Regions from separate parts of the Homo sapiens genome. Here region 1 is linked to region 2. The links come from fine-mapping of genetic effects on gene expression. A gene starts in region 2. The other region holds a variant in brackets. All regions are shown on one strand. Distances are from middle to middle.

Evidence for each region. PIP is the estimated chance that this variant, and not a neighbour inherited with it, causes the effect.
Region 1: its variant is fine-mapped to the expression of CCND1 in monocytes after LPS (Quach 2016, PIP 0.95).

What each region holds. Positions count from the first base shown.
Region 1 is chr11:69,305,954-69,317,448 of GRCh38, forward strand. No RefSeq gene overlaps it. Among named protein-coding and RNA genes, the nearest start is that of MYEOV, 18 kb to the left of the region's middle. RefSeq lists enhancers at 4,925-5,424, 5,266-5,495. The variant G/A (reference allele first, on the strand shown) is at 5,374.
Region 2 is chr11:69,635,756-69,647,250 of GRCh38, forward strand. CCND1 (cyclin D1) reads left to right here and starts at 5,401. Exons shown (of 5, transcript NM_053056.3): 1 at 5,401-5,756; 2 at 7,276-7,491; 3 at 8,077-8,236. The coding sequence starts at 5,559. RefSeq lists silencers at 2,269-2,472, 6,997-7,136, 7,227-7,286, 7,417-7,676 and enhancers at 2,285-3,225, 3,226-4,164, 5,672-6,374, 7,893-8,637.

The DNA of each region.
Region 1 (11,495 bases), 330 kb before region 2:
ATCTAACAGATGGGCAGGTGGAGGCATGGGGAGGCTCTGAGGCGTGTGCATAGTCACACGTGGGTGCAGGAGAGATCTCGAATGTTCTTGTTCCCAGCACTGCCCCCGGAGACCTCCCAGTGTGGACCTTGCCCAGAAGGACACACGACCTTTTGAATTATGTTGGCTTGGCAGAAAGCTGGACTCTTGGCAGCATGCCCCCAGGGCCTTCTCAGTTCTCATAGATATTAGTCAATGTGGACACTCTCTCCTTTCTGGAATGCCCCCAATAACAGGTGTTGGAGACATCGAGGCCCTGAGTAGTAAGGGGCCTGACCCACAGGCACAGAGTTGGGTGCTGCGGGATGGCCAGGAGCTTGGGTCTCCTTCCTTCCCACCACACCAGTAGGAGCCGGATGCTGGCAGGTGGCTTGGGGATGCCCCTTCACTTTGCTGCCGGGAAGTTGGCTGCAGAGTCCAGGGCTCATAAAAGCAGCCAGTTGAGTGAGAATGCACTGGTTCAGAAGCCAGTGGGCCCCTAGCTCCTCACAGTGGGCCCCCTTGGCCAGGCCAACAGGCCATGTCTCCTAGCCAACCTTGGGTCTGGCCCCCAAAGATTCATTTCTATCCGCAAAGTGCCTGCCCTCCACCTTGTTCAGCAGCCTAAGCCCCAGTGACCATTGGCCACCCGAGATAAGGGCCATCCTTGCTCCCTCCATTCCCTAATACTCCTGAGGCCCTGTGCACCTGCCCCACGATGGGGGCTAGAGTCCCCAAGAACAATAAGAACCTAGCTCTTGTCTTGGGAAACCTGGCAGGATTTCCCAAGTCACCCGAATGCCCAAGCTATTAGAGACTATGTTTGCCCTGAAGAAGAAAGAATCAGGCTGAAAACAGAGCAGGTAGCAGTGGGGGAGTGAAGACTGAGGTCCTTCCAGGACCACCAATGCCCTCACGTCCTCCCGCTGGGGTCCAGTGTCCCCTCCCCTCCTCCTGTGCAGAAGCCACCTCCCTGGGCCTTGGTTCCATCCTTTGTGAAGTGCAGTGACCAGTGGTTGCCATGCAGGGGATGCTTGCTGAAGTGTGCCATGGTGCCCAGCACAACACAGTGGGCAGAGGGCAGCCCATCAATACCACTCGCTGCCTTTGCTGCTCACGGTGAGTCTTACCTAGGGCAGTGCAGCGCTCCCTCACATCACCCTTCCTTGGCCCCAACCTCAAAACTTAGGACTTGGTTTCCCCTTCCCACTGTCTTTGATCAGTGCCAAAGGACCAGGCAGGACCAGTGTCAGGAAAGGGGCTGGGACATGAACGGGCTGCTCATTGAAGGTCACACATTTGCAATTTGATGGAGACAACAGGGTCTTCACGTGCCAAGCAGAGTAGCTCTGTAGCAATTCTGGGCACCCCAGCAGGTGAGGGCGGGGCTTTGCTGGAAGACAGTGCCAGCTCCCACAGAACCCTAACGAGGTTGAGCAGGAGGGGTCCTCCGTGCTTAGATGTAACACAATACCCTCGTTTTCTGGATGGGGAAACTGAGGCTCAGGGAGCTCGCTTGTCTTCTCTACACCCCAGGGTGTGCTGGGGCAGCCCTGTGCCTGTGATTCTGGGGCCCAAGTTAGCCCCGCAGCCCATGTAGGTGGCAGAACAGCCCAGATGAGCACTGGGGCCAGAGCTGGGGCCAGCTCTCGGGGTTGTGGGGGGAAATGCTACAGGTCTTGTGCTAACCACTGAGAGACTCCCAGCCCACCTTTGCTGTTCCTTTCATCCCGGTCCCTTGGGGGGAGGTTCTGGGTCCTGCCCAACCAGGCCCAGGAGGGTTTGGGACTGGCCAAAGCAGGAGGCAGGATAGGAAGCTTCCTCTGTTCCTCTCATGGGGATCACATGCTCCCGAAATTGTCCAAGCCATCTTCCTTCTCCCAGCTCAGAGGCCATCTCTTCCAGGAGGTCCACACACATCATCCTGGCCAGGAAGAGGGTCTCCCACACCCTCTGTGCCTTGGCCGTCGTCCTCTTTATCATGTCTTGTGGATTCGTTATTTTAATCAGTTATTGGCCAAACAAACCCCTCTCACACCCGAGTGCACAGCTCGTGCCAACAGCACTGCAAAGCATGTGATGTCCCCACCCCTTCCACACGGCATTCAACACCTGACCACTCCCTGCCACAGCCCCAGTCCTCTCTGGTCCAAGCTGCCCTGGCTTCCTGCAGGGGCATCTCCATGGCCCTCGATCTGTTAACATCTGAGCCTCGACCCTGCCCTTCCTCTGCTCACCCTCCAAGGGTTCATCTCAGAGGAGGCAGCAAAGTCCTCTGCGGGCCTGCCCCTCCAACCTCATCTTGCCTCTCCCGACCCTGTTCCTCCACTCCAGCCGCTATGGCATCCCTGCAGCTGCTCATACTTTTGGGGCAGCTGATACCCCAGGCCTTTGCCCTGGCTGGGCCCTCTGCCTGTGACGCTCTTTCCCAGACACCCATGTGATTTGCTTCCTCCTCTTCTTCAAGTCTTTGCTCAAATGAAGGCCTGCACAATGAGCCTTCCCTGGCCCCCTATTTATAGTTGCCTCTCCCAATATTTTGGAGCACTTGGCACCATCTGACATGCTGGGCCTCTGTCCGTGAGCAGGCCAGCTTCTGGGTGGCAGGGATTTGGGCTGTGCATTCCCTGCTCTCACACCACTCCTACAACCATGCCTGGCACGTCATAGGAATGCCAACAAGCCATGTAGGGTGAAGGCGGGAGTAGCCCTGTGGGCTGGGTCATGCGGTCTCCTACATTGTATATGTGCAGAAGCTGCAGCCACGAGGCCTGCTTGAGGTTGCCTGGCTCTTGCTCCTGCGGGTCTGAACCCAGCTAGATGTGACTGTAAGTCCCAGCTTTCCAAAGGCTCCCACTGCCTTAGGTGCACAGTGTGCCACCTAGCACGGGAAGTGGAGCCCGCCAGGCAGCACCTGGGATACGGGCTGCTCCAGGGATGCCCTGGGAGGAGGGGATGGGGATGCATCCCAGGGAAGAGGTTCCTGGGCTATGACGGGGGTGCAACTCAGCTTCCCCTGGGGTCGGGGAGTGGGAAGACCATTCTGAGAGTGGGAACAGCTCTTGCAAACATGGCCGACATGCAGGTTGGGGCAGATTTGGTGATGAGTGCCTTGGGCCTGATTGGAGGTCCCGTGGGGGTGGGTGGCTGTGGGGCCCCCAGGCAGGGCCTGAAGCAGGCGGAGGGGGTGAGTGGGGGGTTCTGATGGGCCACTGGGAGTGGCCTGAAGTGCACTGGAGCAGGAGGTGGCATTGTCCGGATCCTGTTTGAAAGACCCCTTTTCTGATAGAAGGAGGGCAGATTGCCGGGTGAGTCAGGGGTGGTGGCAGCTATCTGGGCAGAGGCTAGTGTGGGGTGGGAGGCGTGAGGCAGATGTGAGAGCTCAAGGAGGGAGACTACATGCAGCTCAGTGACCTGGGTCTCAATGTGTTCCCAGGTTTGCAGCTGGGGCAACTGGAAGCAGGAGAGGGACCTGGAGAAAGGAAGGCAAAGAGGTGGGTTCCTTTTGGGGCACACTGAGGTTGAGCTGCTTAAGAGACTCCCACGGGTGAGGCAGAAGCCTTGAGCTGCTGGGTTAGCAGCTCCGGGCTCAGGGGAGATCTTGGCCAGAGAAAAATTCTGGGGGTCCTAGTATTCACATAGTGACTTCAGCATGGAGGGGGCAAGGTCCCTCCAGAAGCAGGTGTCTGGAGGAGAGAGGGCTATGGCCTCCACTCCAGGCCCAGCTGGCCCCTAACGGACCCTCCCGCCCGCAGCACCTGCCCTCAGGGCCACAGGGGGCTGCTGGCACCTGGCTCGCTGGGAATGCTCCAGAGGTCCCCTGTCTGCTGCTCATGATTTCACAGACTTGGCAACCAGGACAGGATTGCTATTATTTTTCACCAGAAAACAATGTATGGATTTTGGGCTCTTGCTGATGATTCTAGAGGAAAACAGCTGAGAGGATGCGTGTTTTCAAGGGAACATTCCTCTTTGGACTCGGTCCACTCAGTGTCCTCTTGGAAAACCACAGGGAGGGCTGGAAACAGTCTTAGACTCACATGAGGGGGAAAGGGAGACCAGATCCTTCTCCCAGCTCTGCTTGTGGCTCTCTGTGTGATCCCATGAAGAGAGGAGGAGCAGTGACTCTCACCTGAAATGCTCCCAGCCAAACATGGCCTAAACCAAACGGGATGGCCTCCCTGCCCCTATCCTGGTCCTCCATGGGCTGTCCCCATCTCATGGAATGGGGCCAAGCCTCACACATGGGTGTCACACGTCCTTCTGGGGATTCCTGTCCCTTGTATCTCTTGAATCAGGCTCTTAGATTCTTCTGCTTCATTCCATCATTGTAACCTCCTTCCACGACTCTCAAATCCGTCTCCTTCTCCATATCTCCACTGCCGTCCCTATGTTCCTCTCTGCCTTTGGCTCTGCACGGTACGAGCAGGTGGTCTCTGTCCAGCCAATGTGGGCCCTTTGCACACTGGTGTGAGTGCTTCTAAGTCTCGTTCCAGCTCTCAGTTCGGCCTCTCCCAATCTCCTTGTGTCTTCCCACAGCATGTGGGAAAAGACTAGGAGGACGGCACTGGGGCCACAAAGATAAGTCCATTGTCCCTGCACTCCAGGGATCTGAGCCCCGTGGGCCCCCGGCATGAGTATAATGTGGAAAGGAAGCCTGCGGAAAGGCTCCAAGAGGACGGTACGTTAGAACTGGGTCTCGAGACATGGGTGTCTGGGCCGTAGGGGTGCAGAAACCAGGTCCTGACTTGGCCTGGATGCAAGTGCCAGGGGCTGTTCTGTCTCTGTCAGCTCCAGGACCATTCAGGGGTGGCACAGAGCTTGGGAAGGAATGAATAACAGTCCTGGACATTATGCCAACATTCAGTGAGTGCCTACTGTGTGATCCAGTAGACCCTGGGTGATGTATTAACTTGCCAGTCCTCCCAGTAACCCAGATTAGTCCCAGTCTGCAGACGTGGAGGTGGAAGCTCAGAACAGTTCGGTCACTTGCTTGAGGCCACACAGCGAGGGGGGCAAAGCCAGGCCACCTGCTCCAGAGCCTAGGCATGGATGGGGGTGGAGGGGAGTCCTGAGCCGGGGGGTTCTTTGCTGCCTTTGGGCAGGGTGGGCACAGAGGTCCCAGTCTCGCTCTTGGCCACGCCGAGTGCTCCCTTCCGCTGACTGTGGCTGTAGTACCGACAGGTGTCTCTATTGATGCTACAGCCCCCACCTTTCATTGTCTCTGGGACAAAGGCTCCTCGGGCTCCTAGCTTTGGGACAAGACTGTGGCTGCTCCCTGCCATTGGCTAGGCCTCCCACTGGGGCCTCCTGCCCACTACCTCCCCATGCCTTGTGGCAAGCCTGTGAGTCAGC[G/A]TACCCATTTCACAGCAGGGACACAGAAAGCCCCTGAAACCAGGGACTTTCCCAGCACAAGAGTGTCCAAGACTAGAATCCAACTTTGTCTCGGTCCAGCCACCTGCAGAGTGACCCATGCGGATAGTTGTCAGCCCTTGCTGAGCCATCCTTTGTTTCCTGTTCATACTTTCCCATAAGTCACAGAATCCTCCAGGCAACCCAGTGATGTAGGCACTGTCACTATTCCTTCCTACAGACCTGGAAACTGAGTCACAAAAAGCAAGCTGCTTTCCCAGACCCCACTGCTCTGCTAGGTGGAGGCCAAGCTCGTGTGTGAACCCAGACCGCTGCTCTGAACTTCTCCACACCACACTGTGTAGAGGAAATAAGAGCTGGGAGACTTCTGCCTTCAGGGACTGTGTTTTTCCAAGAAGCCTGGAGGAAAGGATCTAACATTTATTGAGCACCTACTAAGTGCTGGCTGATCTCATAGCATTACTTTGCAAAGTGAATATTCTTCATCTTATTTTATAGATGAGGAAATGAGACTCAAGGAAGCAATATTGACTTGTTCCAGGTCGCCTAGCTAGTGAGGACGCGAGGAGAGGCAAGACTCTCCCCAGCCTGGGACCCCAGGGACCCTGCTAGTGAGGACGCCTGCTCCAAGCCTGGCCCCTCCAGGGAGGCTAGCTCTCACTAGCAGGGCAGCCTCCTTCCTTCTCCCTCCTTCCCGCCTCGGGAGAATTAAGTGGTAAATGTTTTCAAAGTCAACTGTCAAAAGAAAATGGTTAGAGGAAGGAAATGTGCAATTAGGAGCTTCAGAGTAATTTTCATCGTGTGGTTTGAGCTCGACTGTAAACACTCAGGAAGGAGAGAACGCGGCTGTTTCCCCCCCGGCTGGTTTCCTGCCAACTCTGCTGAGTCCCAGAACCGGGTGGGCTCCAGGCTGAGGCACTAGCAGGGAGGCCGGTGGGCAGCCAGCCTTGGACTGGGGAGGTGCTGGGGGCTGTGGGACACTCCCATTCCCAAGAGAAGCTTCTTCCAGCAGAATGTGCCGGCATTACAGAAAGGAAATATTAACATTATAATTATAATTCTGTTTATTTAATTAAGTTATTAAACAGGCCCAGCTTGGGGCGGGGCAGGGGGGAGAAAAAAAAAAAAACAACCCATAGTTTCATTCTAATTGTTTCTCCCAGGATGTAATTAGAGCCTTATAGAAGGAGTCAGAGCCAGAGAAGGCAGGGGCTCTGCCAGGCTGGGTCCAGGCCTGGTGCACAGCTCCGGGCAGGCTGGGCCTGGGGGAGTGGAAGGTAGAGGCTGGCTGTGGGAATGCAGCCTCTATGAGGGCTGGAACTCAGGCCTGTGTCCCCATGCCTGGCATGTACTAGGTGCTCAAGAAATAGTTGTGGAATAATTGCCTAGTGGACTTTGAGCAAGCAGAAAGGGCTGGTGGAGTGACTTTCTCAGCTGCCCTAAAGACATTCAGCAGATGATTTTTCTAGAAGGGATGCAGCAGCCTCCTCCTGGGGCTGCTCTTGGCCATTACCTCTGCTCTGACCTCCCTGGTGGCCCACCGTGGCTTGCAGGTGACCACACCGAGCAGCCTGTCTTAGATTGAGACCTTCACCTCTTCCTTCTGTGCCCTGGTCACTGTGGGCTGAGCCCTGGGGCAGAACAAACAAATGTCACCAGCTCCCAGGCTCCAGTGTGGAGGCTGCCCCTGTGCATCCCAAAGGGACGGGAGTATGAGGGCCCCAAAGGGTTCAGGAGGCTAAAACCCCTACTCCAGGTCCCCCAGTCTGAGAAGCCCTTTCTGGGACCTTGGACCAGGCCCAGCAGAGCCCCTCTTGAGGGGGCCAAGGGAGGCGCTGGCCCTGAACAGCCTCCAGATCCGGTCCTGTGCCCCTCGCGCTGACAGCTGCCCACAGGCTCCATGCAGAACCTCCCGTCAGACGGGAAGTGTCTTGTTCCAGCTGGCACGGCTTTATCGAACAGTCCTGGCTTTGTAAGTGTGGACAGCTGCGGGGAGAGGAGCTGGCTCTGGGGAGGTGTGGGGGCCGGGTCGGGGGCTAGACTGGGGAAGCTGAGGAGTGGGAGGTCAAAGCCAGCAGCATCTGCAAGTGGGTTGGGGGCCATGAAGGTTTGGTTTAGGGGGCATCCCCTGGAAAGCCGAGCCCCTAAACAGGAAGATGGGATGGGAGGCCAAATTGGGGAATGACCATGAAAGAGAGAGAGGTGTGTGGGGGGGAAGATGGGAGGGGCTGACGTGGCCTCCAGCGCTTGCTCAGCTCTGGTACAGTCAAGAAGCTGTCTTCATATGGGCCACACTGAGGCACCACAAAACCAACAACTTCAGAGAGATGGTAGGGCTTCTATATGCCACCTACCCACCCATCCACCCATTCACCCACTCATCCACCCACACATCCATCCATCCATCCATCCATCCACCCATCCACCCATCCATCCATCCATCCATCCATCCATCCATCCATCCATCCATTCATCCATCCATCCATCCATCCATCCATCCATCCATCCATCCATTCATCCATCCATTCGTCCATCCACGCATCCATTCATCCATCCATCCATCCATCCATTCATCCATCCATCCCCCCCATCCATCTAACCACTCATTCACACACACACACATATCCATCCATCCATCCATCCATCCACCCATCCATCCATCCACCCATCCATCCATCCACTCATTCGCCCATCCATCCACCCACCCATCCACCCATTGGTCCATCCATCCACCCATCCATCCATCCATCCATCCATCCACCCACCCTTCGGACTCATCCACTCATCCATCCACCCCTCCTTGTACCCATCCATCTACTAGTACATCTATCCATCCATCCATCCATCCATCCATCCATCCATCCATTCATCCATTCACCCATCCATCCACTAATTCATCCATCCATCCATCCATCCATTCATCCACTCAACCATCCATCCTTCCATCCATCCAACATTCATACAAGACTTGCACTAGGGCACATCTTCTACTGGCCTCCAAAGACCCAGAAAATAATCAAATTGTCCCTGCCCTGTTGGGCATATATAGACACTTCCAGTGTGTATATATGAGCAGTGGAGGCAGGGGAGACAGAAGACAAATAAATCCCCCTGATAGGTCAGGAAACTTCTATAACTAAGAAGATGTAAACCCACCCACTCACCCTAAGCCTCAATTTCTCATCTGAAAAGTGGGGATAAGGTAGTGCAATGGTGAACTGCTATAGTGTTAGATGAGATGATAGACACAAGGTATTTGTTACTGTGCCTGGCATGGAAGGTGCTAAGTAACTGTTATGATTATTTTTAGCATCACCATTTCCATCATTATTCTCTCTGTCTGAAGAGAATAGGAGGATGAGAGTGGGCAGTTTAGGAAAGCCTTCTCAAGTGGGGTCATTTGGACTGGGTGTTGAAGGATGAGTAGGAGTTCATTGGGTACTAGTATTGTGCTTCCCCACTAGCAGCCCACATTCATACTACACTCATCCCTGCCTTTGCATCATACTTCTCACCCTTACTCCTCCTCCCCAAGGCCCCCTTCCTTTAGGTCCACCTCTAACCCTAACTCCTCCAGGAAGACTTCTTGCCTACCCCAGGCATTATCTTGCTCCTTCCTCTTGTCTTGTGGCACAAAGATCACACCACACATCAGGCCCTCAGAACTTCATTCTGAATTTTGAAATGCTTCAGCTGACTCTTCAGGATGGGGCAGAGTCTTCTCCTCAAATCCCTTATATCTGGAGCCTCAGAGCTGGATAAATTTGTTGACTCTGCCCCAGGGGACAGCCAACAGTGACCAGGGCACAGAAGAAAGAGGTGAAGGTCTAAATCTAAGTCCCAAGAAGGTGTAGACCTATCTACAAACAGGAGCAGCCTCCTAGGACTTTGCCTGCATCTGCCTACAAGGTTAATGCAGTTCCTACCTGGAGCAGCTCACAGTATAAGGAACAGAGGGAAGAGGAGGACAAGGCTGGGAGTTTCTCTAGCATAGATTTCATGTCCTGGTTAAACTTGGGTCTTCAGCACCAAGCACAGAGTGGGGGCTAAGAATCATTGGATGGATGGGTATGTAGGTGTATGTGTATGGTTAGAAGGATGCATGGAAGGATAAGTACATGGATGGATATATGGATGGATGGATGGATAATGGTTGGATAAATGGATGATGGATAACTGAATAGGTGGGTGGATGGGTGATGGATGGACAGTTGGATGTGTGGATGATGGACAGATGATTAGATGAATAAGTGGAAAGTTAAACAATACAACTAGAATCTTTAGATTCTGATTAAACCATAGAAGCAGGAACTTTGAGACTGTATAGATCAACCCAAATTAATTTACCTGATCAGTGCTTCTGAGTGTCTCTTTTTGCCAGATATTGTATGAGGTGCTGGGGATACCACAGGGAACAAGATACAATCCATGACCTCATGGAGCTTGGCATCTAGTTGAGAAGCTAGGAAATATGCAAATAAAGCCCAAACAAAATGTTTTAAAGGTGATGACTGCCTGAAGCTTACTGGGGGGCACTTTAGTTAGGGGCATCAGGGAGAGTTGATGAGAGGATAAGATTGGAACTGAGGACTGAATGGCAAGAGTCAGCTGTATGAAGATCTGGGGAAGACATGAGAACAGTAAGTGCACTGGTCCTGAGGCAGGAGCAAAGTTGGACTTGTTCAATAATGTAAAAAGATTTGAGTACTTGGAGTGGAATAAGAGAGGGAGCTGTGGCCTGAAATAGCAATAGAGAAACAGGACAGGGCAGATCACACTGGACTTTGTAGGCCATGGCCAGAGGCATGGATTTTGTTCTGTGTAGGTTGGAAGGCACAGGAGGGTGTTAAACAGGAGGAGGAATGGTCTGAGTTCTGTAAAGGATCACTGTGGCTACTCCATGGGGCTATACAGAAAGGCACGTGAGGGGAAAGCAGGAAGGCAGTGAGAGGGCATCACCATGGACCAGGCTAGAGAGGGAGGTAGTGCAGCTGGGGAGATGGGGCAGGTTCAGGACATGTTTGAAGGCACAGACAACAGAGTTGATTTATGATTTGGCTGTTGGGGAGAAGGATGCTTCCCAGCCGTTTCACCTCAGCAACTGGACTGGCCTAACCCTAACCGTAACCCTAACCCTAGCTGCCACCCACCCCCTACTCCTCTGCTGAGACTCACTGGAGCCTTGACCTCCCAGGTTCAAATGATCCTACCACCAATTGCTATGGTGATAGAGTTGTTGTTTCTGATGATGGTGGCTGTGGTAGTGGTTTATTTCCTCCATCAGCAGGCTCTTCCACCATGACAATGAGCCATTTCCAGCCATTTTCAGGGACTCTGGAAGAAATTGGCTTGAAGAACAGCTGGACACACATCCAGTCTCAGAGCCTAGAGGTGAAGCACACGGACTCTGGAGTCAGAGAGACCTATGTTTGAATCCTGGTCCTACCACTTTCTCTCTCATCCTTATGTTAGTCACTTGACTTCTTTAGGTCTCTGTGTTGTCACCTGGAAAATGGAACTTTCCACCTCCTCGGGATGTTATGATGATAGATGTAACAAGCTCAGCACAGTGCCTGTACAGGTGAGAGCTCAGATAAAGACTCTGCTGTTAACAATTACCTCTCCTCTGATGGGGAGTTTATCACCCCATCTCAGCAGCCCTGCTCCTGTTCCTAGTTCCAACAGGCCCTGGGAACTGGGTTGCCAAGACCAGCTCCTGACAGCTGCCACCCACCCCCTACACTCCTCTGCTGAGGTTCCGGAGCCTAGGGGCATGGGGCATTGCGAAGGCCTCACTGGGTTTAGAATCGAGCAAGATTATAGAGCACATTTTGCAAGAGTGGGAGGAGGTGGAAGTAGCCCAATTCATAGTAGCTTTCCCAACCCGTGGCTCTAATTGGCAGAGAACATCCCCTAAGGCACCTCTATGCTCCATGAGGAGCTTGTAATTAATAGGTGGGGATCCTGAGGGGCAAGGTTGACAAGGCTATGCTTGGGGGATGGAGCCCTCTGAGGGACGGGATTGAAAGGGTGTTTGCAGTCACATAGCCTGTCTAGGGATCAGTGTTTGTTTGTTTGTTTGTTTGGTTGGTTGGTTGGTTTTA
Region 2 (11,495 bases):
TAAGTTGGCTGGAGGAAACACCTCATAGAAGTGAGAAGATGAGGATGGGTGGTGAGTGAAGGCTTTTTCTCCAAACCCTACAGGAGATGGACCTCAAAGCAAATGGCCATGCTTCCCTTAGACTGGGTGAACTGGTGCTGCTCAGGGCTAGAAGTGTGTCTAGAAGCATGGGGACCAATGCAGCCCCCTCCACCCTAGGGCACATAACCTGTCTCTCTCCCATAGGATAGCAGAGACAGCTCTCTAAGTCAGGATTCAGCGAGATGGTCCAGGAGGGGCCTAAGGATTCCTCTGACTTATCCAAGCCTGGGGAGGCAACACAACCTAGCCTGTGTCTCAGGGGGCCCCAATCATGCCCTGAACCTCATGAGCCCAGGCAGGCATCCTGTTGGTTAAGGTCGGCCTCAGGGTCCAGGGATGCACTAGATTCTTTATCTTAAAGTGACCCTCAAGAAAAAAAAAATAAAATGTAGCTATAGGCAGTTTCTGGACGTTTTCCTATTTGTTAAGCACCTTCTTGCTCCGAGCTTTCCAGCCACAGTGCACTGGACGCCATCGGAAGGCTGCAGCTGCTATTTGGTGCTTTACCACCGCTGAGAAGGTGGAATGGTCACGGCCCGGTTCTGTCACTTTCTTCAGCCGGACAGTCGCCTTATTACGGATTCCAGTAGGGCCGAGCACACTCCTTCCTGCCCGTCTTTACAGATGAACATGCTATCGCTCCAGCAGTACAACCCGCCTTATTACGTAAAAAAGCAGCCCCTATCTACCCGCAGGGAAGGAGTATGTTCGGCACCACAGCTGGACTGGTGCTCGAGTTAAGCGTCCTGGGAGGTCCGCATGCGCTCCGGAACCGTAATGCGCGCTTTTTCTAAGCCTTACGGTAAACGCGGACGCAGGGCAACCACGTGGCGGTGGAACCGAGGCCCGGCGGGAATGCGCGGAATGCGCGGCGCGGCCTCGCGCGGTTCCCGAGCCACGGCCCAGGGTCCGGCGGCGCGCGCTCTCGCCTCCTCCCCTCACCTCTCCCAGCCGCACCCCGGCCCTGGCCCTGCCGCCCAGAACTCGCTGGGCAAGTCGTGCCCCGCGTGAACACACAGAAGGGGCTTGGGGACCGAGCGCGGCCCATCAGTCCCTCAGACCCTGAGGACCCAGAATTCCCTAAGGGGTCCGAATCCGAGTCCTGCCCCCAGCCCTTAAGGCACGGGCTCCAGGGACCCCAGGGGAAGGGCGCGGGGCATTAGGTACGCAACCCGTTTCCCCGCACCTGGAAAAAAACTCCCTTTCCCTCCCCTCCCCTGCTTGTTGAGTGTCCGGATAACCAGAACTCTAAGGCGCCCCGTAATAACGACCCCGCTGTCCCTCCACCCACCCCCAAGTGCCAAAGCGAGGGATGGAAGCGCTTTCAAGCGTTCCAAGGGCATTGAGGAGCGAGCTGGAGAGGCGCGGGGATGCGGGGTCCTCCCCGCAGTCTTCCGGAAAGGGCGGGGGAGGGCGCGGCAAGTTCCGGAGTGGGGCATGCCGTGGGAGCCCACGAGGGCCTCAGCGCGGATCCTCCGCCGGAAAACCGGCTCCCGCGAGCCGCCGCCGCAGGTTTCCTAGGCCCCGCGAGTCCCGCAGCGAAGCCCTGCGTCTCCGTCCGACGCGGGGGTCTGCTCAGCCTCGGGTGGGCCGCGGCCAGGCCTGACTGCGGGGGAGAGGGCCGAACGTGACCTCCGAGGTCACCCCCAGCCAGCTTTCTCTCCTGTGGTCGGAAGTGGTTTTCTTCTCGATCTGGGCGCCTACTCCCCACCACTTGGTCTGAGAGGGGCTGGGGCCGGAAGGCCAGGGAATCTCTGGTGGATTTGGGGGTTCATATTGCTCAGGGTACCAGCCGATGCGTTTTGAGGGGCGGGAGTCGAGGAATTAGAATCGCCTTTAACCCTCAAGAGTTGCGCCTTCAGCCTCGGGATCCCAGATGCGTCGTTGGAGCCAGGGCCGCCCCCCTACCTGTTGGGTTTGCGTTTTAACTCCAGCGCACACCTTGCCGGCAGCCCTCGGAGCTAGGGGAGGGGTCTCGTTTCCCCGCAGCCCGCCGGACAGACGACTGGGGCACGGGAGGGGCGGTGGCAGGGTGGTCTGTGTGTGGCTGAAACTAATTGATCTGGAGCGGAAACGCACGTCTGCGGTTGGGGCGATGGGGGGGGCGGTGCGGCTGTCCATGTGCCGAGCGTGTGGCTGTCTCGGGTGGGCACTGGGGCCGGAGTTCGCCCCGGCCCACCTCGCAGTTTTGGGGCGCCTGGGATCGGCGCTACGTAAGCGAAGCAGAGCTGCCATAGCACGTGGGCCGCCACGCGCACCCCAAAAGCAAGCAGTGTGGGGGGAAGGGGAGCTCGAGCGCCTTCGGAGCCCAGGGGCCGGCTTTCGGAAGCGTTTTCCCGGGCGACTTAAGGGCTTAACAATGGAAAACTCGCGGAGCCTGAGCCAAGTCCTTTCAAGTCGCCGCCAGGTATGCGGCTGCAGGTGACCCCACCTGGGTGCGCCCGCCCGCCAGCCGCCCTGGTGGAAAAGCGGGTGCGGGAGGTCGCTGGCGAAAGGTCGGGACTGGTCCCTGCACCACCCGCCCCCAACCCAAGCCCCGAGCCCCGCGGCGCGCAGCCGCGCTGAGTCCCGGGGTCTGCGTCGCGGCGCGCCGGTTCCTGAATGAACGCGCTCCCTTCCCCCGCCTGAATGAAGGTTCCCACAGCCAGGGACGGTGGCGAACACGCGCCTGCAGCGGAATTCGCTTTCTCCTGACCGACCATCCGCCCAGGCCGCGGTCACCGGGGCGGGGGCCAGGGGGCGAGGAAAGCGTGAAGGTGATTTCAGTTAATTTTGGATTTTCTTTCAAACAACGTGGTTACCCTCCCGACTGGGCCACTTGCCCTTTGTCTCCAAATGGTCACCAAGAAATAAGAACAGAGCACTTTAAATGAGCCCAGAATCCGCAGTTCCTGCTTCGTGGTGGGTTTTAAGAAGACAGTGTAAAGTAAAACTGCAACCGAAAAGTTTTTTAAAGTTGCTTTTCTCTTTGGAAAAAATAAAATCAAAATGCTTTCTCTGCGCTTCTTGAAGCAATGACCCTCAAAAGCCCAGAGGTATTGGCCCCCTCGGGGGACCCGGGGGCCGCCAAGCAGGGTTCCCCCAGGTGGGGGCTGGGCAGCTGGCGCTCCCCGCCGGGCCCCAAATTCCAGCGCCGGGCCCCAAATTCCAGCGCCTCCCCCGCGGGTTCCTGGACGGCTCTTTACGCTCGCTAACCGGGCTTGCAATTTTGCGCTCGTCCCTGAGCCGGGAAATCAACGAAGTTCCTAGTCGAGATCTGCCCGGTCCGCCTAGTAACAGCGCCGCGCCCCCATTGGCTCATGCTAATTCCAGTTTCCTCTGTCTTGCGCCCGGGATGGGGGGGTGAAGCTCCCTCCTGGACCCAGAGCCGGTTGTGCCGGAGTGGGCGAGCCTCTTTATGCCCTGCTGCCCCTAGCCGACTTCGGCCCGCTTCGCGCCTCGGGCTGGGCCAGGGCGCACGCGGGGCTCGGGGCCCCTCGCCCCACGGGATGGGAGAGGCCGGGTGATAGCTCCGGGCCCCATAAATCATCCAGGCGGCCGCCGGGTCGGGATTTTATGAATGAAAAAGCAGCTGGGCCGCCCTTGTGCGCGGGCTGATGCTCTGAGGCTTGGCTATGCGGGGGCCAACGCGATTGTGGGTGCTCGGGGAGTGGGGGGGGGCACGACCGTAGGTGCTCCCTGCTGGGGCAACCCATCGCTCCCCATGCGGAATCCGGGGGTAATTACCCCCCCAGGACCCGGAATATTAGTAATCCTAATTCCCGGCGGGGGAGGGGGCGCGGGAGGAATTCACCCTGAAAGGTGGGGGTGGGGGGGGTCGCATCTTGCTGTGAGCACCCTGGCGAAGGGGAGAGGGCTTTTTCTATCAGTTTTCTTTGAGCTTTTACTGTTAAGAGGGTACGGTGGTTTGATGACACTGAACTATATTCAAAAGGAAGTAAATGAACAGTTTTCTTAATTTGGGGCAGGTACTGTAAAAATAAAAACAAAAGTTAAGACAGTAAAATGTCCTTTTATTTTTTAATGCACCAAAGAGACAGAACCTGTAATTTTAAAAACTGTGTATTTTAATTTACATCTGCTTAAGTTTGCGATAATATTGGGGACCCTCTCATGTAACCACGAACACCTATCGATTTTGCTAAAAATCAGATCAGTACACTCGTTTGTTTAATTGATAATTGTTCTGAATTATGCCGGCTCCTGCCAGCCCCCTCACGCTCACGAATTCAGTCCCAGGGCAAATTCTAAAGGTGAAGGGACGTCTACACCCCCAACAAAACCAATTAGGAACCTTCGGTGGTCTTGTCCCAGGCAGAGGGGACTAATATTTCCAGCAATTTAATTTCTTTTTTAATTAAAAAAAATGAGTCAGAATGGAGATCACTGTTTCTCAGCTTTCCATTCAGAGGTGTGTTTCTCCCGGTTAAATTGCCGGCACGGGAAGGGAGGGGGTGCAGTTGGGGACCCCCGCAAGGACCGACTGGTCAAGGTAGGAAGGCAGCCCGAAGAGTCTCCAGGCTAGAAGGACAAGATGAAGGAAATGCTGGCCACCATCTTGGGCTGCTGCTGGAATTTTCGGGCATTTATTTTATTTTATTTTTTGAGCGAGCGCATGCTAAGCTGAAATCCCTTTAACTTTTAGGGTTACCCCCTTGGGCATTTGCAACGACGCCCCTGTGCGCCGGAATGAAACTTGCACAGGGGTTGTGTGCCCGGTCCTCCCCGTCCTTGCATGCTAAATTAGTTCTTGCAATTTACACGTGTTAATGAAAATGAAAGAAGATGCAGTCGCTGAGATTCTTTGGCCGTCTGTCCGCCCGTGGGTGCCCTCGTGGCGTTCTTGGAAATGCGCCCATTCTGCCGGCTTGGATATGGGGTGTCGCCGCGCCCCAGTCACCCCTTCTCGTGGTCTCCCCAGGCTGCGTGTGGCCTGCCGGCCTTCCTAGTTGTCCCCTACTGCAGAGCCACCTCCACCTCACCCCCTAAATCCCGGGGGACCCACTCGAGGCGGACGGGGCCCCCTGCACCCCTCTTCCCTGGCGGGGAGAAAGGCTGCAGCGGGGCGATTTGCATTTCTATGAAAACCGGACTACAGGGGCAACTCCGCCGCAGGGCAGGCGCGGCGCCTCAGGGATGGCTTTTGGGCTCTGCCCCTCGCTGCTCCCGGCGTTTGGCGCCCGCGCCCCCTCCCCCTGCGCCCGCCCCCGCCCCCCTCCCGCTCCCATTCTCTGCCGGGCTTTGATCTTTGCTTAACAACAGTAACGTCACACGGACTACAGGGGAGTTTTGTTGAAGTTGCAAAGTCCTGGAGCCTCCAGAGGGCTGTCGGCGCAGTAGCAGCGAGCAGCAGAGTCCGCACGCTCCGGCGAGGGGCAGAAGAGCGCGAGGGAGCGCGGGGCAGCAGAAGCGAGAGCCGAGCGCGGACCCAGCCAGGACCCACAGCCCTCCCCAGCTGCCCAGGAAGAGCCCCAGCCATGGAACACCAGCTCCTGTGCTGCGAAGTGGAAACCATCCGCCGCGCGTACCCCGATGCCAACCTCCTCAACGACCGGGTGCTGCGGGCCATGCTGAAGGCGGAGGAGACCTGCGCGCCCTCGGTGTCCTACTTCAAATGTGTGCAGAAGGAGGTCCTGCCGTCCATGCGGAAGATCGTCGCCACCTGGATGCTGGAGGTGCGGGGCTTCGGGCGGCTCTCTTAAGACTTCCCTGCAACTTGTTGCCCAGACCCACGTTTCTTTGCTACTCACCCCCCTCCCTTCTCTCCCGCTAGAACTTTGAAGTTTGCCGTGGTGTTTCTAGGGATCCGTATTTTCAAAATAAAAATTGCGGGTATTTTCTGAAGGAGGAAGGGGTGGGGGTGGGGGTGCTAGAAGTAGCGTTTCGTGGGAGGGGAGAAGGGGGTCCGGGAGGGGTGCCTTCGGGAGAAGCCAGTGCCAGGGGCACCCCAATGGGCCCGAGGGTGCGGGCTGGCAGGCTGGGTGCGCTTTGTGTCCCCCGCCTGCGCCCCAGCCCGGCTGCGCCTCAGCGGCCGGGAGCCGCCAACTCCGGGGGGAGGGGGCATAGATTTGATTTTTAAATTAATATCCATGGACACGTATGCAAGGGCCGCTCGTGCCAGTATTATGCGCCATCTTTGCTCTTTTATTGCAAAGCAAAAGTGTTTATTAATAATTGGGGGCAGGGTGGGGGCGGGGAGCGGCCGCCGGGCGCTGGGGCCGCAGCTAAGGGCCGCGCGGCTGCCGGGAGCCCGCGGGAGGGGCGCAGGGACGCGGCATGGGTAGTTTTGGGGGGACGCCGCTAGGGAAGGGGGGGCCTTTGTTCAAGCAGCGAGTCCCGGGGCGCCCCGAACGGGCAGCCTGGGCCGGAGAGCACGGCGAGCTGCAAGGTCGCGTGGCCCCCAAGACGCCAGGGCTTGATCCCCGTCTGCAGGGATATCGGCTTGGAGGACCTTCTCCGAGCGAGCCGGGGGCCTGGGAGCACATTTTCAGACCTTCGGTGGGCGCCTGAGGGGCCCGCAAGTATTTTAAAATAATTTTTGAAAGTGCGGCGTGGTGCCCTTGCGAGAGGGAAACGCCGCCCGCGCCCAGGGGGAAGGGGGGGCCCCGGAGTTTGAATTCCTGGGGCTCCCCCCGGAGCCTGTAACGAACTCCCAACCCCCGGCCTGGGTAAAGGGTCGCCCGAGGGTCATTTTCAGGGTTTTTTTATGCACTTAGTTATTTTTTTAATATTTTTAAATATTTTTTGAAAAGATGACGTCTGGGGAAATGCGGCGCGGCGGCCTGGGACGCCACCTTTGTGTCTCGCAGGCGCGGCGCCCAACCCCGCGGCCCGTTCCGCGGCCCCGCACCCCAGTTGGTGTCGACCCCCAGTCAGAGGGACCACGGAGCTCCAGGGCGGGCCAGGGTCCCGGGGGCCGGCAGCCCGCGCCGCCGCGCACGCCGCCCAGCTGTGCCCGCTCCCGCCCCCACCGTGCCAGCCTCGCGGGGACTTTCCCTTTCAGTTTCGGGGAGGGTGGGTACTGGGGACGCGCGGGGGAGGGGGCGCATCACGGGAAGCTCCTGCCGCCCCCAGCCCCGACCCCTCGGCGCCCTCCAGACCTGGCGGCCCTGCCAAGCGCGATGGGGGGTGCGGGGGCGTGCGGGGGGGCGGCGCGACCTGGCGGCGGCGGTCACGGGCCCCGTGCCTCCGTAGGTCTGCGAGGAACAGAAGTGCGAGGAGGAGGTCTTCCCGCTGGCCATGAACTACCTGGACCGCTTCCTGTCGCTGGAGCCCGTGAAAAAGAGCCGCCTGCAGCTGCTGGGGGCCACTTGCATGTTCGTGGCCTCTAAGATGAAGGAGACCATCCCCCTGACGGCCGAGAAGCTGTGCATCTACACCGACAACTCCATCCGGCCCGAGGAGCTGCTGGTAACCACTGGACCCCGCCGCCCCCCGCCCCCCGCGAGCCGCACGCAGGACCACGGGGCCGGGGAAGGTGCAGGCGGTGGCGGCCGGCCCGCCTCTGACATATCTGCTCCTCCGAGGGAGGGCGGCCCCGCCGCCGGGCGTCCCTGTCCGGGGAGCGGGCGGGATCCTAGCCGCCCTCGTCCCGCCGCCCTGTGTGCGCTTGCCTGCGACTCCCACCGCGTTCGCGCCCCGCGGTGTGGCCGAAAAGTGGGCGGCGCGCGCCCTCCAGCGGCTGCACGAGGAGCGCCGCGCTCGGCGCTGAGCCTCCAGTTCCAGGTGGTGGGAGGTCTTTTTGTTTCCACTTGCAGAGTCTTTTCACGCGGCGGGCGCCTTTTCTGTTTTGATCTGGGATTGCGTGTTGCCCCAGCTCCCTTGAGTCCCCAGCATTCGCCAGCCCTCCCCTCCAACATCCAGGACCGCACGAGACGCAGGGGCCAGTGCTCTGAGCCGGAGGTGCGGCGTGGCCCGGCCCCCGTGCTGCCGGCTTCCCCGCGCCCCCGGGCTGGCCCGCACCTCCCCTGATGGCCGCTCACCCTGTGTTCGCAGCAAATGGAGCTGCTCCTGGTGAACAAGCTCAAGTGGAACCTGGCCGCAATGACCCCGCACGATTTCATTGAACACTTCCTCTCCAAAATGCCAGAGGCGGAGGAGAACAAACAGATCATCCGCAAACACGCGCAGACCTTCGTTGCCCTCTGTGCCACAGGTAGGGCAGGCCCGGCAGCCCCCGGCCTCCCCTTGAGAGCCGGCTCCTTAGGTGACCCTGGCCGGCTTCTTGCTCTCCACCTGGGTGCTGTCTGGGAAGATGTCCCCAGACCCCCTCCTGCGCTGGAGAGCGCTCTTCCAGCTCTGGTGAGCAGAGGCCCTGGATTGTTTGTCGCGCTGGATGGAGGGAGATTTGCTCCCTCACGGCCACCATGCAGTACCTTGGGCATTGGTGTGGACGGCTCAGCCTGCCTGTGTCCCGTTACTCTGGCCTCGTCCTTCAGGCCAGGCAGCCTGTGGCCACTCCATGCTGAAAGGGGTTTACCTTGGCCACAGGGCCGCCTCCTTTCTCCACCCACCTCCAGCCCTTCTTGTGTCCTTAAGGAGCCTGAGCTGCAGAGGCCCCCTCCTGGCCTCTCCCAGGCTGGGCCACCTGCCAGAGGCGCCTCCAGGGGCGGGGAGAGCTGTCGGCCTGCCTGCACCACGTGCTCTGGGCAGCCGAGTGCAGGGGTGTCCAGCAGAGGAGCTCGGCTGCCTGAGGCCCTGCCAGGGGTGCCGGCAGCCAGCCGGGCTCAGCTGAGCCCTGAGGGGGCGCTTCAGAGCACTCTCAGCTTGGGCCGCCACCGTGGGCAGCAGAAGCACCCAGTCCTCACTTCCCCTGGCATGGCCCCAGAGGCCCCTCCCTGACATGGCCTTGGCCCCAGAACCCAGTGGGGACAGACTCGCACATACACAGGGTGCCGCCTCCTGCTGTCCCCAGCCCTGCCTCTGACCCCCCTGTGACCGCCTCCTTCCCTGGCCCAGGAGGCCTGGTTACCTTCATGGGGGAGCATGGCCCCATCCCACCCAGCTCTGCTGTGGCCCACCTTTGGTCAAGCCTCAGTTGTCACATCTGTTTGGGGGCTCACTCTGGGTGACCTAGGCCACAAGGCCCACGGGGCATCAAAGAGGCAGTAGCATCTTCTCCCCTCCCCAGAGGGCAGAGCCCCCCAAGCCTACTTCAGAGCTCCCTTCTGACACCGGTAGCCCGCAGCCGGTATTCCAGAATGGGTTCTGGTTTAGGCGTGAGGCCTCCCCCACCTCCTCCACCTGCTTGGGGCATGAACCCCTCCCCCACGTTTCCAAGCGAGTCCCCAAGGTGGGCAGATGAAGATGCCAAGGATGTCGACCAGTCTGGATGGGTCTGGGGTGGGGGGGCATGCGGCAGACAGGGAGGCATTCTCTGGCTGGTGCTCCTCAGAGGAGAGAGGCCTCCGGAGACTCCAGACAGCCTTTTATGGAGCTGAAAGTGGCTTCAGAGAAATGCAAAGTTTCCTGGAGAGAACGTGGGGCGTGGTTCTTGCACAGCCTCCCTACAGGGTGGCTCCAGCAGTGGAGCTCCCCTCCCAGGACCCCTGGGTGCTAGTGGGAGGCAGTGGGCAGGTGCAGATTCTCGTCCTTCCCACTACTGCACACCCTTTGTCTGCGAAGGCGCCCCCAGCGGTGGGTGAAGGAGGAGGGACACTTGGGGACCCAGCTGTGCACGTGCTCTCAGTGACTGTGGAGTCCACTCCAGGGTGGGTCCCGAGGGAGGGGCAGGAGACCAGGGGACCCACCCCTGCAAAGTGCTCCGGGTCCTGACCCGTGGCCACCCCATGGAACGTAACTGAGCAGCCAGTGCCTTGTTCCTGCTGGACATCTGTGGAGACAAGAGTGACTTACGGCTGCTTAAAGTCAGAAACAGGTTGAAGGAGGTGGAGGCGTGGGAAAGAGTCTAGGAAGGTGTTTTTGCCCTCCACGTGGCAAAGGTTACATTTAAAGGTGATGCTGGGTGTTCTCCCTGCACTAGGCATTCCTGGCCCCAGGTCCCCAGCAGGTGTGCACATGCTGCATACACTCACGCATGGGGGTTTCAGGGCAGGTGCGCCCTTGGCTCCGTGGGAGGCCAGGTGAGGAACGTCCAGTGCCAAGGAGCTTCCGGGACAGCTGTCACTTCCCTTTACAACCAGGCAGCGGATAGGGTCAAATCCTGGAGCTTTGGTGTCTAATTCTGGGTGGCTCCTAATCTAAGCACAGACAGCACCACACACTGGGGTGGGGGCACGAGCTTCTGAAACAACGTGGCCCCAGTGACTCCACGCTGTGTGTGCCCCTGGAGACGGGGGGGTGCACAAGGTGCGGAGCCAGCTAGAACCTGTCGCTCCCTGCAGAAGCGGTTTCTGTGTGCGGTTCTGATTTGCCTCAATGAGAAGGTTTTCATTCATGGCTCCCGGCTCTCAGACTGGGTGGAACTGCTCCCATTTAAAGGGGAAAAGAGGTGGCTCGGCTCGTTAAGGATTTCTTTTTCTAAGTTGTTACGGCGCCCAGCAGCCGGCTTTGTCTCCCCTTCAGGGTGGCTGCCTTTCTTCCCGGCCCCTCGCCGGCGGCCCTCTCTTTAACAAGGCCGAAGTTGTTTATTCTCTCGGGATGAAGTCTCGGATGGGCCGCCACACCCCTGGCGGCCCGTGGGGGCCCCTCTCCCTTTGTGCCTGGGTCGGCTCCCATTCAGCTCCCCCGACCCCCCTTGTTCCCGGGCGCTCAGTGGCGCGAGATGAGGCGATGGGGCCGACAAAGATGCCACACTCATCCCTGCCGACGTCCGGCTCCCAGCCCAGGGCCCCTGGTTCCTGTGCAGAATTCCTCGTGGGTGTGACAAAAGGCTGCCCCCAGGCTCCGCTGGGGTGGGGGCCAGGCCAAGAGGCACATCCCACACTGGCCCACCTGTCCACGGTAGGCGCATGACTGCCCTGAGGAGGGGAGGCCGGCATTCCCCGCCACAAACCAGGACGTAATTGGTGGCAGGGCTCTCTGTGGAAAGAGCCAGTCTGCTGTTTGTCTAGGAGGTCAGTCACAGAGGCCCCGAGACGCCCACTACTGCAGCCTGGCAGGCGGATGAGCCCAGTATCTGGCAGTGACCAGAGGGAGTTTTGTGCAGACCACAAAGGCTGATGGGCCGCCCTAGATTGGTGTCCCTCTTGGAAGTGGGCCCAGATGTGCGGGACAGTCCCCAGGAAGCCCCAGGTGAGGGCACTGGTGCCCTCTTGGGAAAGCTGCTCCCTCCTGGGGCCCGGCTCCCGGCCCAGTCCTCCAGGGGTGTCCCATGGTGACTGGTGCTAGGAACCCCACACCTCTTCCCTTACTTGGGAAGTCACTGGAATTGTTGGGCTACATCAGACGGCCCAGAAAAGTGTTTTTGTCATCGGCCAGAAATAGGAGAGTTGTGAGTAGAGGGCCCGGGTGGA